2 separate regions of the Homo sapiens genome follow, and region 2 is linked to region 1. The links come from fine-mapping of genetic effects on gene expression. Tissue or cell type: thyroid. Region 1 holds a variant in brackets; the other region holds the start of a gene. All regions are shown on one strand. Distances are from middle to middle.

Region 1 (8,107 bases):
ATTATTAACAATACTTAATGTTCCCTTTTCTTAATTAGGAAACTAAATAAGAAACAAAAATATAGTGCTTGCTTATAAAGGGATGTCTCAATTTTAGTTTTCCCTTGGCATTTGAGGAAAAACTGTTTACTCTGTCTATGTAAAATAGTGTCCTTGTGTCCCAAAATAGTTCATATAACTTCCTAAAATTGAGCTATCATTATAGGAACCAGGAGAACAGACTCATGATAATCCTTGGATTAGATTGTTGGACAATTAAAAACTGTTATGGACGACCGAAAAAAATGCAAACCTTAAGAGAATTCTGAAAATGATGCAAAAAAGGGAGAAGACTTAAAAAAAAAACAAACCCCAAGACACTGTGGCTGTAAAAAATGACAGGATATGACCGGGATCTGACACTGCAGAACAGGGCACAGAAATGGCTTGCCTGAAGCTAGAAATTTCACATCATATCCTTCAAGGGTACACATGATTGATGCTGAGCAGATAATCAGAATTCACTCCGGTAGAGCAGATAACTGATAACACAGTCTGCATGTCTCAGTTCATGTGCAATCAAAATGATCAAAATTCACCATCAGGCAGGGAGTGTAGTGTTATGAAATGCATAATATTTCCTTCTTGGGTAAAAGTGAATTTACATTTCATACTAGATAATAGGTTTTATATAATAAAATGACAATTTTTTTTCTAAGAACAATTTTATCCACTGAATGGAAGTATTGATTTGCAGTGAACACAAAGAATATGCTTATACAATAGAGAGGAAATTATTCTGTTGCAGATTTTATTGAATTTAAAGATCTTTTGTGTTGCTCTGCATCTTGATAGTTTAGGATGGGCAAAGATGGACCTAAATCTTCATTTTGGGAAAAAGCTGGAGAGAGACAAATTCTTCTGTAAAATGGAGTGGGGGCAAGCATGGAGTTCCTGGGGGCAATCTGGGATGAGGAGGCTGTGGAGGGAGAGGGGAGGTGAAAGAGAAGCCAGTGAAATCGAGCTAGGCAAGGGTGTGGTACAAGGTATTAGTGCTCAGGGAAGCGTCTCCAGTGCCCCCAAGAAGAGTATGGATATCTGATATCAAATTGAAGTGCTTTGCATTTCTGTAATGTAACCCCACATACCATTGCCCCACATCTTTAATAAAGTCTGTCCACAGAGGCCTCGCTTGAATGGTCTTGTGTAGGTGTAGCCTGAGGAAGGGGTGAGTTCCGTGCCTTTGCAGACATGGCACAGAAGTGGCACAGGCACTGTGTGTGCAGGCTGATGGGTGATCCCTCAAATGAACCTTGTTGGAAGCAGGAGTCAGAGCCACAGGAAGCCTGGGGAGGCCTGTGGGAGTTTAGGGGGACTTTCTAGCCAATCGATCTCAATCTGACTACACTTACTGAAGAAATGAGTGGAAGAACTCAAGGCTAAATTAAAAAAACAAACAAACTTGGAATCAGAACATTGGCATATTTGTGCAAACTGAAAGAGGCTATTATCTATACAGCATATACACATTCAAATGGCATAAAATATGAAAGCAGATCTATCATCTAGTCCCATGAAATCCTATGAATCCCCTTCACATGATTAAAAAAAAGGGGGATCTAAAACTGTCTAGGGCATGAGCTAATGAAAAACATTTACTTGTATACCTAGAAAATAAATGACAAGATGTCTCCCAGATTTTTGATAATTTTAATAGCAATTATATCTTGGGAGTAGAATTTTATTTTCTTCTTTATAATTTTTATACTTTTACAAAATTTCATTCACCAAATGTCTTAACTTTTTATCAGGAAAAAAAATCCAAACGCAAACCTGACATTTAAAAAAAAATATTATAGGTTAGAATTTGTTCCTGCTACATTGGTCAATGGGAACAAGTTTAGGCTACACAGTTTTTATTTTAATTTTTAAAAAAATTCTATGAAGAATAAACCCCAAGTAACACATGTGAAGAAAGTAACTTTATATTCACATTTTATTTATTTTGTTATTTCATGTTTTAGTTTTTTGGATCTATTCCACTTTAAAAAAGGCCATGTCAAAGGCCAGGTTACTAAGCTATCATAGAACTACAGTGGTTAATAAAGAATCAAGTTATATGTAACTGACAACTACTAATAAGCAACAATCTCCAGACAATCTCTTGCTCTGGGGGCCAGAGTATCAAAAGTAAGAGTGCTGGCTCATCCTCAAGATCTGTCCAGCAAGCAGCAACGACATAATTATGCTGAGGGTAGTGAGAGTCTAGATCACTAAATTTTGAGCTATGAGGAAGCTGAGCTAGAGATAAGTCCTGGGAGTCTTCAAATTCCAAGAAAAGCAGAAAATGCTTCATAAGAAAAAAAGACAATGTGTAGCCTGGATGCCTGAAGCACAGATTCCATCCTAGAGTAGCATTCAAATGTATTTTTAAACAAGATGGATGGATTCTTATAGGTCCCAGAAATAGTATGGCTTGGTTTACATGCAAGAACTCACCCACAAACTAATAAAGGCAGAAAAAAATAAATGGTCTGAGGAAGTGTCCCGTGATCACTCACCCACCTGAATTTGGAGCACAGCTAGGTCGGCATCCAGGGACCTCTTGGCTGGCAGTAATTTCTGGGTCACACAAATTTGTCTTTGCTTCTCAGCAATCTTCATTTTCAGGAATTGGATCTTTTCTTCCAGTAGATGTATTTCAATTTCTCCATTTAGTTTCATCTTCTCTTGGATATTTATTTTTTCATAAAAAATGCATATTTCTTCTTCCCGCTCTATCAGCTGAACGCCACTATGGTCAAATTCAGAGGCAGAGGCTAAGTGGGCATTGAGACCACCGTTTTACTAGTCATTGTGGTTCCCTCTGGCTTTGGATGCAAGATATACACAACATAGCATACTTCCAGAGGATCACAGATAGTCACCAATGGCTTTCTAGTTAAATTACATCCACACTTTGGAATTCTCTAGGGATAGGAGGGTTACTGAGCCTCTCAACTTTGAGGCTGACCATGTGGTTGGCTAGCCACAATGTCTCTGAAAGTCCCAAAGGTTTTCCTGGGGTGGGAAAGAATGTCATTCCCAATGCACAAACAAAGTGATCCCATAGTCTGATTTTCTGCAGATCCTTTTCTCGGGTCAGACTTGCCAACCAAGGCCTGGCCAGAAGCACACAGGCAGGGGGCCAGGGAATGTAGTTCTGGTGTGAGTCTGCTCTATATTAAGTTGCTAGGCCCATTAGTTTCTTCTCAAGTTGAATATTTCTGGTTGTGATTTCCCCATAAACAGGCAAAAATCTATCCTTTGTAATCATGCCAGGAGAAAGACCCCTCCTTGAATGGAGAATATGGGGAGGAAACAAAGTAAGAATGTTCTAACCCCAGCAGCTCTGGTCTGCATGACCGATCATGCACCACTGATCTGAGTGGCACCTGGGTGCACACTGTTTGTCCAAACGCTTTGGTTTGTGCCAGGAGCTGAATAGCATTTTTTTTCTCCCCTGGAGAAAAACCTACCAGCCCTTTGAAAATGTGCTGTTCTTCAAAGGACCCTAAAGGTCTTCCCACACATTATGCATATACATTATTTCAGAGTTCCTCCTTTAATTGCTTCTATCTATGACTCCCCTTCCTCAAAACATGCATGCATGTGGTTGTACTCAGCTAATCCCAGCTCTATATTTTGTCTGTTTTCCTTTCAAAGGCTCAAGATCAAGTTCTCTTGACAACAGAAGCCAGGAACAATGTTTTACCACTTTTTTGTACTCTCAAGGTCTAGCACTCTAATGCCTTATACAGAATAGCACACAATCAAAGTTTGCTTAAAAAAAATCTGATACCAGATGTCATTATCACAGGGCTCTGCAAATTTCACATTCCAATTTCTCAGAGCACAAGTAACTTGGGAGAAACTGCTGAAGTAAACATTGATTAATGATATAACTGCAACCTGGAAGAAATAATGCTACTCCTAAAGGTCTTACTAACTTGCTGAGCAAATGAACTAGGAGAATGGCTAAATATAATAAGACCAAACTTACCACAACATTGGGTACAAGTTCCACACTTATTTATGTCAATTATGCTGAAAGAATCTGATGTTATAAGAGGCAACCCGAATGACCACTTAGGAAAGGACATTGATCTTCAAAAGCAAGCAACTTTCCCAAACCCCTCCTCTTTGCCTGTTTATGA[CATAG/G]GACGGTATTTCTTTCTTTCTCTCTTTTTTTTTTTTTGTTTGTTTTTGGAGACGGAGTCTTGCTCTGTTGCCCAGGCTATAGTGCAGTGGCACGATCTCAGCTCACTGCAACCTCTGCCTCCCGGGTTCAAGCGATTCTCGTGCTGCAGCTTCCCAAGTAGCTGGGATTACAGGCCCCCACCACCACACCTGGCTAATTTCTTGTATTTTTAGTAGGGATGGGGTTTCACCCTATTGCCCAGGCTGGTCTCGAACTCCTGAGCTCAAGTGATCCACCCACCTTGGCCTCCCAAAGTGCTGGGATCATGCCACTGTGCCCAGCGTGAGGACAGTGTTTCTTATTTTCCAGGGAAGCAACACACAGTCCCTTCTCTCCAAAGGCTAATGCAACCTGAATATCACATTTCCCTCACTATTCACTGTCAAGTCTAGATAGAAAAAGAGGTGACATTCCTCAGTTGGATCCCTGGTGCTCTGTTCTCACACCTGGTTTTTACCTTTCATTTCGATGCTGAACAGCTTTTTCGTATCTTTTGCGAAGCTGCACCATCTCCTCTTCGATCATTGTGATCGTGTTGGCAAGTCTGTCAATGTTATTTAACTGGGCTTCCTTCTTTTCTTTCATTTCCTGAAGTTTTGATACAATTTTGCGCACATCGTTTTGCATGCTCTCTCTGATGGTAACATTGTTGGCGTGTTTCAGCATGGAATTTTGTAGCTTTCTTTTAAAGTAATAAGACAATGGGTAAGATTATAATTTTCTTTAGTTTATTTAAAAGGAATGAAGGCTTCTGAAACACAAGCACTATCAAAGCAGACCTTGCTTTAGTGTAGCCCTTGAAATGATACTAGTAATAATGATATTCATCTTATGATACTCTTCAGGAATTTTCATAATCCTTCCAGGTCTCAGATTTTCTCTGCTCCAGATTAGAACATCTTTCCTTTTCCCCCCAATGTTCTGCTGACCCCCTTTATCAAAGCGAGAGACTGCAGTCATTCATTTATTGTCATTCTCAGGAGACTGCTGTCTTGAGGACAGAGATGGTTATATCCAATAATGTCCACTGGACATAAGGTGGTGCCTGACTCAGCCTGTGGCCACAATAAATGCTGAATGAATGCATGGCCTCTATAAATGTATTTTATTTTCAAGTTGGATGAGAACCTGATTAGGAAATCATATTTTTCTTTTCATCCACCCCCGACCCCTGAAATGAGGCCACTTTATAATTGCTTTGTTGAAGGAAACTGGGCAATAATGGCCATCAGAAAATTAGATTATACCCTGATCGTGTACTGTTTACTAACATAGGTGAAAGAGTCCAGAAGATCTTGGCACATGGTAAATAATAAATGAAGAAAACAACCATTTGCCAGACGCTTTTCTGAGTGTTTTTATATGAATTAGCTCATTTCACAGTAAAATGTCGCATGAAATATGGTATGGATAAGGAAAGTGAGCTCAGAGAGACAAAGCAGCTTGTCCAAGGTTACAGAGGTAATAAGTGGGAGGGGTGGTATTTGAGTCTGGACACCACCTCTTTCACCAATCTGCTATAACGTATTGCCTCCCACAACACATGAGATGCTTTACATCTACAATCAGGGGATGTTGGTTAACAAACGATTTGATTGTTTTCTAACTTCCCAATCCCAATTATTAGATTTGTGCTTTTCTTTCTAATTGGGCAGGTGAAAATCATCATAGTAAGCATAGTTATATGTTATGGTTTTTCATTCATTAAAAAAATGACTCCCAAAGAGTAGAAGCATGGTAGATTATCATCTATAAAACAAGATGTTTGAACAAGGGCTTTTTCTGGATTTCTAATTCTGGCTTTCTAAAATACTATTCTTTTTATTTTTTATTTTTATTATTTTTTTGAGACAGGGTCTCATTCTGTCACCCAGGCTGGAGGGCAGTGGCACCATCTTGGCTCATTGCAGCCTCTGCCTCTTTCCTATCTTCTTATCCCCAGGATTTTTAGAGTTCAAATGAATCAGAAAACAAGCCTTTGAAAGGCCAATAGTTATTATAACACTTACCTTTCTTGACTAACGGCACTATTTCTCAGAATTTCAAGTTCATTTAATGACATTTTATGCCTTTCTTTTATTTCATTTACTTTCTGATGAGCTTTGTGGAGTAAGTTAACAAATTTGTTTCTTTCATTTCGAATGGTGTCATACAGTTTAGCAAACTCTCTCAGTCTGTAAAAATACAAAGTGTTTACTGAAACTTATGAAATGAACATCAGGTTTTTTTCCCCTCACCTACGTAGATAAAACACCACATAATTACTTTACCTCCGATAAATTTCACATTTTTTCTTCTTGTGTATCCTGATTTCAAGATCCTTTGCTTTCATTTCTTTAACAATGTTGGTGTATTTTTGCTGAAATGTACAAAAAAATGTGAAATAAATAACAACATATGAACACTCCCAGATTTATCCCACATCATTCCCTTCCATTAAAGACAATTCTCCAGCCTAGGCAACATAGTGAGACCTCATCTCTACAAAAATAAAAAAATTATCTGGGTATGGTGGTGTGCACCTGTAGTCCCAGCTACTCAGGAGGCTGAGGTGGGAGGATCGCTCGAGCCCAAGAATTCGAGGCTGCAGTGAGCCATGATTGCATCACTCCGCTCCAGCCTGGGCGACAAAGTAAGATCCTGTCTCTCCAAAAAAAAAAAAAAAAAAAAAAAAATTATTTCTTGGCTTGCTGGGTTGTACAGATCAGGGTGAAGGGTAAAAGAGATCTGAAAATTCCCTGGCTAGCTGAACTGATTCACATTGGCTAAGACAAACTGTTAACTGTTACCTAAAGAAGAGAACAAACGAGAGAAGAGAAAACGCAAAGAGCCTGCATGGCTTGGGTTTGAGGAAAAGTTTGGACAACTTTTGAGAGAGAGGAAGAGTGATTTTGAACCACACAGCTGGACTGGGTGAGTGTAGTTTATGGAAAATAGATGAGAGAAGAGGATTCCTAGTAAGTTTTGGTGAGTGTTATAAACTGAACCCTCTGTGGTGTTTTGTCAGAGACTGAAGCAATGATTTTAAAGTGCTTTCCATTCTTTTGTATGTGGGGTGTTTTCCTACATAATAAGGCATCATATTGAGATCAGCTGTAAGGAGGTGTTACACATAAATATTTTAAAAGAAAGCAGTTATATTTCTAGAGTTCTAAAAAATATATCAAGTGCTAAATACACTAGTTATGTTCTTCAAATCAAAAGATACTGGTTCTTGCATCTGGGATAAGAAACATATTCAAAAATGAAGGATTTGCTGGTAGTAAACCAGAGGAAAGAGTTTGTCAGCCTTCTCTCAAGGACTGAGAGCAAAGCCCTTTTGGTATGAGTGATTTGAAAGAAACTAGCCATAGAGCCAAGATTGATGTGTAGCATTTTTCTAATGCTGTTCTCCATGAGAATAGGGGTCAGGAAGAAACGAATATTTAAGTAACTGTACACATGAATAATAAAACAGATGGGAAAATGTAGTGTCATCTATTCTGTCTTAGGGGTGATAGTGACATTGTTTTTTTTTCTTCACCTTTGTCTTTAGGGATGTGGATGCAATGTGAACATAAAAGATTGCCTTCTTATGGAAACTGCAGCTAAGTACAGGTAATGTTTAACACACTAATTCCTAATGCTAAAAATACTCAAGGGATAAACATTTGTCCTTTATCAATTTCTGTATCTCAAGAAGAATTGTCTATTTTGGTTTAATACAAATTAGCTCATTTAATAATGAGGTTTGCTTTACATAGATTAGTCACACATAGATATACATGTATATCAGTTTTTGAAATTAATTGAAAATTATCTAATTCATAAAACGGATCAGTGTTTCTTATAACAAATAAGTATACCTCTGGTGTTTCTGTAATTTCTAAAGAGAAAAGGGAGGAAGTT
Region 2 (8,107 bases), 160 kb after region 1:
AATGCTGGACAGATGATCTTCCTACAGAGAGGAGCTACCCACTGTGGGTCTCCTCTGAGCTCTTGTAACACTTAATAAAGCTCATCTTCGTCTCGTTCACCCTTCACTTGTCTGCGTACCTCATTCTTCCTGGATGCAGGACAAGAATTCGGGCAAAGGTGCTGTGGCCACAGAGGTTTCTGGCCAGGAAATTGACAACCCAAAACTCCCTGACAATAACATGATGAAATGTAGCTTATTGAGGGAATGAAACACTTGAAAATCAATCACTGTAATACACATATCAATAAATCAGAAGAAAAACAATATGATCATCTTCATAGATACAGAAAAAGCATTTGACAAAATGCAACATTCACTTATGATAAAAAGTCTAAGCAAATTAGAAAGTAAACTTCCTTAACTTGCTAAAGGGCATCTTTAAAAATCTACTGCTAACTTCCTAATTGTTGTTGAAATTTCCCTCATAAATAGGAAATAAATCAAGGATTTTTGCTTTTGCCACTCCAACTCAATATTGTAGTGGCGGTCTTAGCCAGTGCAATAACACTAGGAAAGAAAAGCCATACAGATGAGAAAGGAAGAAATAAAACTGTCTATTTGCAGTTTCACATAGAGATTTCAAATAGAATTAGTACCTATATATATTCATTAAATACTTCTCAATGTTGATAGTTATTAGTTAAGATTGTTGAGTTTATTAATATTTCATAAGAATAATAGAAGTCATAAGATATATCTCTTTTTAAATAGTTTATAATTCAGAAAGTTAAATTCTTATGGCTTTTCTCTTAAGCTAAATTGCTGAATTCTTTGTTTTGGTTACCTTTTCTTCTGAAAACTCTCTTATGACCTCTGCTGTCCATTTATTGAACATAAATCATTAAATAAAATATTCGTTGACATTTATATCTAGATGGTAAGAAATCTTCTGCCCATCTGATTATTTGAGTCAGTTTTAGGAAACAATATATGCTAAGAAATGCTTTAAAATTGTTTTCTTATAAATGTAATATATTTTCACTATTGATAACACACAAAAAATTGCAGTAACCACTCATCATATCACTGCTTAAAGATAACAACTGTTATCAAGTGGTATATATCCCTCTGGAATTGTTTCTGTAAAGTATAATTTTATGTTAAATTTATTATTATTATTACACAATTGAGATCATACTATACGTGCAATTTTGTATATATTCTTTTCACTTTATATATGGACTATTTCCCATATCAAGATATGTTTAAATTGTTGCATAATATATCAGCTATATACTAATTTATGTAATACTGTCTTATTTGGGAGCATTTAACATTTTTTTATTGAGACAGAGTTTCACTCTTGCCGCCCAGGCTGGAGTGCAGTGGTGTGATCTCGGCTCACTGCAACCTCTACCTCCTGTGTTTAAGTGATTCTCCTGTCTCAGCCTCCTGAGTAGCTGGGATTACAGGTGTCCATCACTACGCCAAGCTAATTTTTTTAATTTTTAGTAGAGATGGAGTTTCACCATGTTGGCCAGGCTGGTCCTGAACTCCTGACCTCAGGTGATCCACCTGTCTCAGCCTCCCAAAGTGCTGAAATTACAGGCATGAGCCACTGCACCTGGCCAGGGAGCATTTAAATTGATGCAATTATTTTCTCTTACAAGTAACCCTATAAAACATAATTCCTTGAGCATCCCTAATTTTATGCTTACATCCCCAAAAGCACAATTTCTGAGTCATAGAAAAAGCTTTTCATTCTTATTGCTGAATTGAACTCTAAAAATTTTGTGCTAACTTAACACTCCTACCAGAAGTATATGTTCATGACCACAGAAATAGCTTTTTTAAACTAAGATGTGAAAATATCTTAGAAACAAACTCTAAATAAGGAGAAAAAAGTTGTATATAATTTTCTACTTATGAGGTGAATAATTTCATTTTTTCTTCAAAGGTGTCAGGAAAATGGACGTTTTGGTAGAGTGATAAAAGGGCCAGACCTTCTAATTGCTTAATCTTAATGTTTCTGAATCTGTTTCCCCATCTATAGTGTGAGGAGAATAATTTCCCTCCTAATTAGTGAGGATACAGTGAGATGACGCATGTGAACATGGTTTGACAATTATAATGTCATATGGATGGAAGATACAACTTTTATTAATCATTGTTGATATGTGGACAGATTTGATACTCATTATACTGTTTTTAAGTGTCTATAACTTTAACTATTTTATACCAATCTTAATATTAATAATTTTCTCCATTTTCAACCTTGTATGATCAGCAAAGTAAATTTTCAGTCAATTCTATTTGGTTTTTGTTTGAAAAAGTAAAATAATGATTATGCAACATAGAAAATTATAGTTCAGTTGCCAATTCCATTAACTTAGTTTGTCTCAGAAACGGAAAAATTACCATAGACACAGAATTAACTATTAAGAATTAATATTTAATCTAAAAATGTCTAGTGTTTCTACAGAAAATTTGAGTACATTCTCAACTTCCTTAAACCAGTGCCTTTTTCAAATTTCTTTTCAAAGTTACACCTGTCAATTTTCATAAAAAATAGTTTGAAGATTATTCTGAATAATTATAACCAATGAAACACAAAGACAAGAAAAGAACTATTGCAGTGGGCCCTTGCTGAACCTGAGCTAGCACCTATAATGAGTGAGTCTTCACCGAAAGAAGAATAAGGAGGGAGCAAGGACTAGAAGGACAGAAAAGAGGCAATGATAACTTAAGAGAACACTGAATTTTTAAAAATTTTAAAAAGGTAGTGGCTAGCAGAGAACCTGAGACTTGTACCCATGAGAACTTTAGCCCAGTCTATCTATCACGATAGCCCCAAGAATTCTGGTCATTGTACTTGGGTAAGGGCTTCAATTTTTTAAGGCACTTGCATTTTATGAAATGTTAGTGTTTGCAGGTGTCTTGGCTAAATAATTTAGGGAATACATTTTAGGAGGAAGTAGGGGCACAGAGGGGGAGAGAGAAACCAGGCAGGAAAGAAGAAAAAAAGAAGAAAATAAATCTTTCTGTTCCCATTATTTTACTGCCCATAGAATTATAAAAGGTAAACACACACACACACACACACACACACACACACACACACACACACACACACACACCTTATAGGGTCATTTAGAACCATCTTTCTTCATTTTAAAACTAAAGAAACAGGTCTAGGTGACACAGATGAAGCAGTGGCAGAGCCAGGAAAATAATCTGACCCTTGTCCCTGCTCTTTCCACCGCACCATGGTGACTCTCTTTTTTGTGTCTTTTTTTTTTTCACTCTAAAACTGATGATCATTTGTAGTCAAAGAGATCAATGCTATTCTCAAAACAAGTTCTGATCTCTCATAATTTTCTTGGTAACTCAGAATCAATGTTAAGTACGTTGAAATAAAAATACAGTACTTTACACGGTAATTTGGTAGACTGTGCACCACGGTCCCATCCATTTTCTTACTTGATCCTCACAAAAACCCTTTGAGGCAAGGCAAGGAAGGTATTATCATCTACATTTTTAAAGTGAGCAAATTAAAACCCAAAGTAAGGTCACTTAGGGTCAGGACGGAGCAAGTACTCTATTCCTATATTTGGAATATAGGAGGGAATACACTTCCAAAGAGGCAATTCCCTCAAAAAGCACCAATCTTGCTCTTTACTCTCTTACCAAGGCATTCTCCATGCCCTGGAGATGCCCGCACTAGGTTAGTGAAGCTTGGATCTTGACATCCACATAGGTTACTCCTAGTTTGCACCTAGTTGTCAACTTAAAAAGCGCAGTTTCTTACCCCTTCCCTTGGTCCTGATCCTTATTTAGGCTCCTATTTTTCTCTTTGGGATTTGGCCTCCTGGGTCTCACTCCAAAGCTCCACCCTCTCCAAACAAGAAGTCGCGTCCTTGGTATCCAAGGTGACCATGCAGCTTTACCCTCGTTGCCCCCTTCCGTGCTTCCCATTGGCCAGTGGCCTCCCATGTACCGCCCCTCCAATAGCCAATGGTCTTGAAACAAAGGGCGCCCGCCTTTCCAGCGATTCTAACACCTGCCCTCTTACCCGTGCTCCCCTGCGCATTGCCTCCTGGGATATGTGGTTTCTAAGAGGCGGAGCTCTGCGACTTTCCACCGCTTTAGAACTACGTATCCCGTCGGCCTTAGCGAAAGGGGGTGGACTTAGGCAAGGGGTCCAGGTCAGAGTTCAGAGCTTTCAAATCCCAACTTGCCCCTGGGGATTACGCAGCTGATGTTTACATCGCCTAGTCAAGCCAACCGGCTCGCTCTTGTTTCAGCAAACCCTGACTTACGTCTCCTATTTGACTTGAGGCGGCACAGTGGCCAAGTCGATTGGCCGTGGCAAGTGACCCTCCCTGTGGCTGAAGTGTTCTGAGGACTGGCGAGAGAGGCGCGCCATGCTTGCCCCCTGTTCAGGTTGGGAGCTTGGCTGCTTCCGTCTCTGTCTCCGTCAGGTCCGACTGTGGGCTGGCGCTGGGCGCTGGTCTTGCTGGGCTTGCCAAGCCAGGCCGTACAGCTCAGGTAGGGGCGAGCGCTGGCCCGGATCGGAGACTGAGGTCCCTCCGCCTGGCCCGGCGCGCCGAACTCTGAAGGAGTGGACACTGCAGGTGAGCCCGTTCGGTCGGCTGCGGGCGCGGCTCCCGTGCCACCTGGCCGTGAGGCCCCTGGACCCCCTCACCTACCCGGATGGCGACCGCGTGCTGGTCGCGGTGTGCGGCGTGGAGGGCGGCGTGCGGGGCCTGGACGGCCTGCAGGTGAAGTACGACGAGGATCTGGAGGAGATGGCCATTGTGTCTGATACTATCCACCCCCAGGCGTCCGTGGAGGTGAACGCGCCCCTGAAGTTTGGCAAGTGAAGTGAAGTGAAAACGGGTTTGGGTCCCAGGGAACGCACAGTGAACTTAATAAATTTGGTCGACGTGCACTTTTAATTGGTCCTGGCTTTCTAAACCTAATTTACAGTTGGCCCCTTCGGAAATGCAACTTTTCCTCTGTTCTATTCTTGAGTATCCGAGTAGTATTTAAAAAATTAGGTTCCCAATTATAGAAATTTTATACATCGAATGGAAACACGATTTGGTATAATCCAGGTCAAATTCTATTTCTGGAGCCGCTTGTGTTCTTCTTTATCCCGTTGTCATTAGCAAACTGGCTTATTTTTCAAGGTTGAAGTTTCTTGACAATTCATTCAATGGTATGGCAGTCCATCTACATTTCCCCTTGCTCACAGCCTGGGGGTGTGTCCCAAAACAGCCCTGTCAATAGGATGTTCCAGGTACCACCTGGTTTGAGTATTTGGTTTTAGACGGGCGCCCAGCTTCTTACTGTTATGTTTCCATTCTTTTTGGCCTAAGTTTTCCATGAGTAGCAAGCTTTGAAGAAAAACACATGGTAAGCCTGCCTAGGAAGCTTCAATAATAATGCCTGCAAGATACCTTTCTTAGGTTTTCCTAAATGGCAAGCCACTGTGTACACACACTTTTCTAGGAAGGGCTCCCCAGACTGTCATTCTTCCTGGGACTGAAGGAAGATATTGATGATGATGATGATGGTAATAATAATAGCATTTAGCATTTTTAAGATCATCTTTTATAATGCTTACAGTTGCCCAAATAGTAGATGCCGTAGTCCTCCCTTATCCACCGTTTGGCTGTCTGAGTTTGTTACCTGCCTCAACTGTTGTAGGAAAATATTAAGATATTTTGACAGATCACAGTAATATAACTTTTATTACAGTATATTGTTATAATTGCTGTATTTATTATTATTGTTGTTCATCTCTTACTATGCCTAGTTTATAAATTAAACTTGATCATTGATATGTATACAGGAAAAAACATAGAATATATAGGATTTGGTACTATTTGTGGTTTCAGGAATCAAGTCGGGGGGGCGGGTCTTGCCTACTTTAAGAGAAATCATCAATATTTATGTTAATTCCAAATTAAATATCAGCGTTTTTAATTTTTAAAATTTGTATACAGCGATGCCTGCAGTTACATCTTAAATAGACAGCCAAGGATGGCATTTGTAATTCCTTATTTTCCAAACTTGCTTCATGTACCACTGCCATTTGTCCACAATCTTGTGGGGTTTTTTGTTTGTTTGTTTTGGTTTTTTTTGAGACTGCATCTCACTCACTCTGCCATGCAGGCTGGAGTACAGGTGCACAATCATGGCCCACTGCAGTCTTGACTTCACGGTTTTAAGCAATCTTCTCGCCTCCGCCTCCTGAGTAGCTGGGACTACAGGTGCATGCTACCATGCCTGGCTAATGTTTTTGTTTTTTTGTAGAAAGGGAGTTTTGCCACATTGTCCAGGCTGGTCTTGAACTCCTGGGCTTCAAGCAATCCTCCTTCCTCGGCCTCCCAAAGTGCTGGTATTACAGGCATGAGCCACGGCTCATGGCCTAATCTTGTAGTTTTAATAGTATATATTAGGTTTTTCAAAGTTGTTCCCATTTTTAAAAAATTACTTCAAATACCTTGTGATATAGTTGCATGGTAATATTTTCATTTTTTAAGTATGAAAGGTTAGACATAGGATTTGAAAACCTAAGTCATGATCATATATACTGGGGAAGAGGCTTCTACAGTCTTTCACAGGAGTACTTAACAGAATCGTAGTCTCCTTTACTTCCCATCTATGTTAGTTCTCTTTAGGTGATTTAGGCCAGTAGAAATAACTGCTCTGTTTCTAAAAACGGGCAGAAAGGCTATTGTATTTGGTCCCGTTGCCGTGGTAGAAGACCCCTTACCTTTACAGTATGCACTTTCCAGGATTCAGCAATATTATGGACATAACTGAGGAGTTGGGTTTCTAGGTTAAAATGCTTTGGAGCTTATAAACTGCAGTACTAACTTGCTTTTTTCTTTTTTTACTTCTAGGTTTAGATATCAAGTCATCAGGGTCTGGCTGTGTAGAAGTTCAAAGTATTGAGGGTGATAATTGCAAAATTGAAACAGAGCATGGGACTAGCATCTTGCAGTCTGTTAAGGTATAGCATTTTTCTAATTTTATTTCACTATTATTTTTTTAAAAGCCTTAAGCTATGAATCGTACTATCAAACTCAAGAGATTCTTCTGTTTTTCAGAACATTGTCATTTATTCATCTCTCAGAAAGTCCTTGGCAAACATTTTGCCTTGAAATCAGTTCTAGTAAAGTACAGAGGTTATAGCAGTTTTGAGGTTTTGCCTCAAATTTCTTTTTGATTTAATTTCAAAGTGTACAGTGAAACTAATAGTATTTTCCTAGTATTCTGAAATCTTACTAAAGAAATTTTAGTTTCCACAAATGATTTTCTTCCATTTTATTAAAGAGTAAGGAAGAATCTTTGTGCACTATAAATGTGCTTAAATATTAGATGACTTTAATCACATTTTTAATGTACCAGGTAGCTAGCTCATTACTTAAGGATTAAGTAGTTATTTGTGCAAAGTAACATATGATTCATCTTGTTTTGTAATTAAATTTTTTTTTTTTTTTGAGACGGAGTCTTACTCTGTCACCAGGCTGGAGTGCAGTGGTGCAATCTCAGCTCACTGCAACCTCTGACTCCCTGGTACAAGCAATTCTCCTGCCTCAGCCTCCCAAGTAGCTGGGATTACAGGCATGCACCACCACACTCAGTTAATGTTTGTATATTTAGTAGAGACAGGGTTTCACCATGTTGGCCAGGCTGGTCTCGATCTCCTGACCTCGTGATCCGCCTGCCTTGGCCTCCCAAAGTGCTAGGATTACAGGCATGAGCCACTGCGCCCGGCTGTAATTAATTTTTTTTTTTTTTAGTGTTTTCTTTGTAGAGACAGGGTCTCACTGTATTGCGCCAGGCTGGTCTTGAACTCATGGGCTCAAGTGATCCTCCTGCCTTGGGCTCATGAAGTGCTGGGATTACAGGTGTGAGTCACCATGACTGACCTATATTTAATTTTTTAAAGATTAGACTGGTGTTAGCTGTAAATAGTTTGAAATACCTCTCTGATAGGTGCTAGCTTATCGTTACTCTTAGTGCTTCTTGCATTTGCATAGTCAAAACTTGATACTTTTGTGAACTTTGAAAGCATGCAATTTTGTTGAAGTCAGTCATCTTTGCTTCA

What was found. PIP is the estimated chance that this variant, and not a neighbour inherited with it, causes the effect.
Region 2: it holds the start of CCDC146, and the variant in region 1 is fine-mapped to the expression of CCDC146 in thyroid (GTEx, PIP above 0.99).

What each region holds. Positions count from the first base shown.
Region 1 is chr7:77,277,223-77,285,329 of GRCh38, reverse strand. It overlaps CCDC146 (coiled-coil domain containing 146), which reads right to left. Exons shown (of 19, transcript NM_020879.3): 12 at 6,490-6,578; 13 at 6,229-6,393; 14 at 4,677-4,901; 15 at 2,545-2,773. LOC102723791 (a long non-coding RNA gene) reads left to right here and starts at 6,978. Exons shown (of 6, transcript XR_927688.3): 1 at 6,978-7,186; 2 at 7,755-7,816. The variant CATAG/G (reference allele first, on the strand shown) is at 4,176.
Region 2 is chr7:77,118,416-77,126,522 of GRCh38, reverse strand. It overlaps CCDC146 (coiled-coil domain containing 146), which reads right to left and starts at 3,908. Exons shown (of 19, transcript NM_020879.3): 1 at 3,791-3,908. It overlaps LOC124901678 (a long non-coding RNA gene), which reads left to right. Exons shown (of 3, transcript XR_007060391.1): 3 at 1-17. It also overlaps the pseudogene FAM185BP. RefSeq lists a silencer at 4,123-4,222 and enhancers at 4,118-4,617, 4,618-5,119.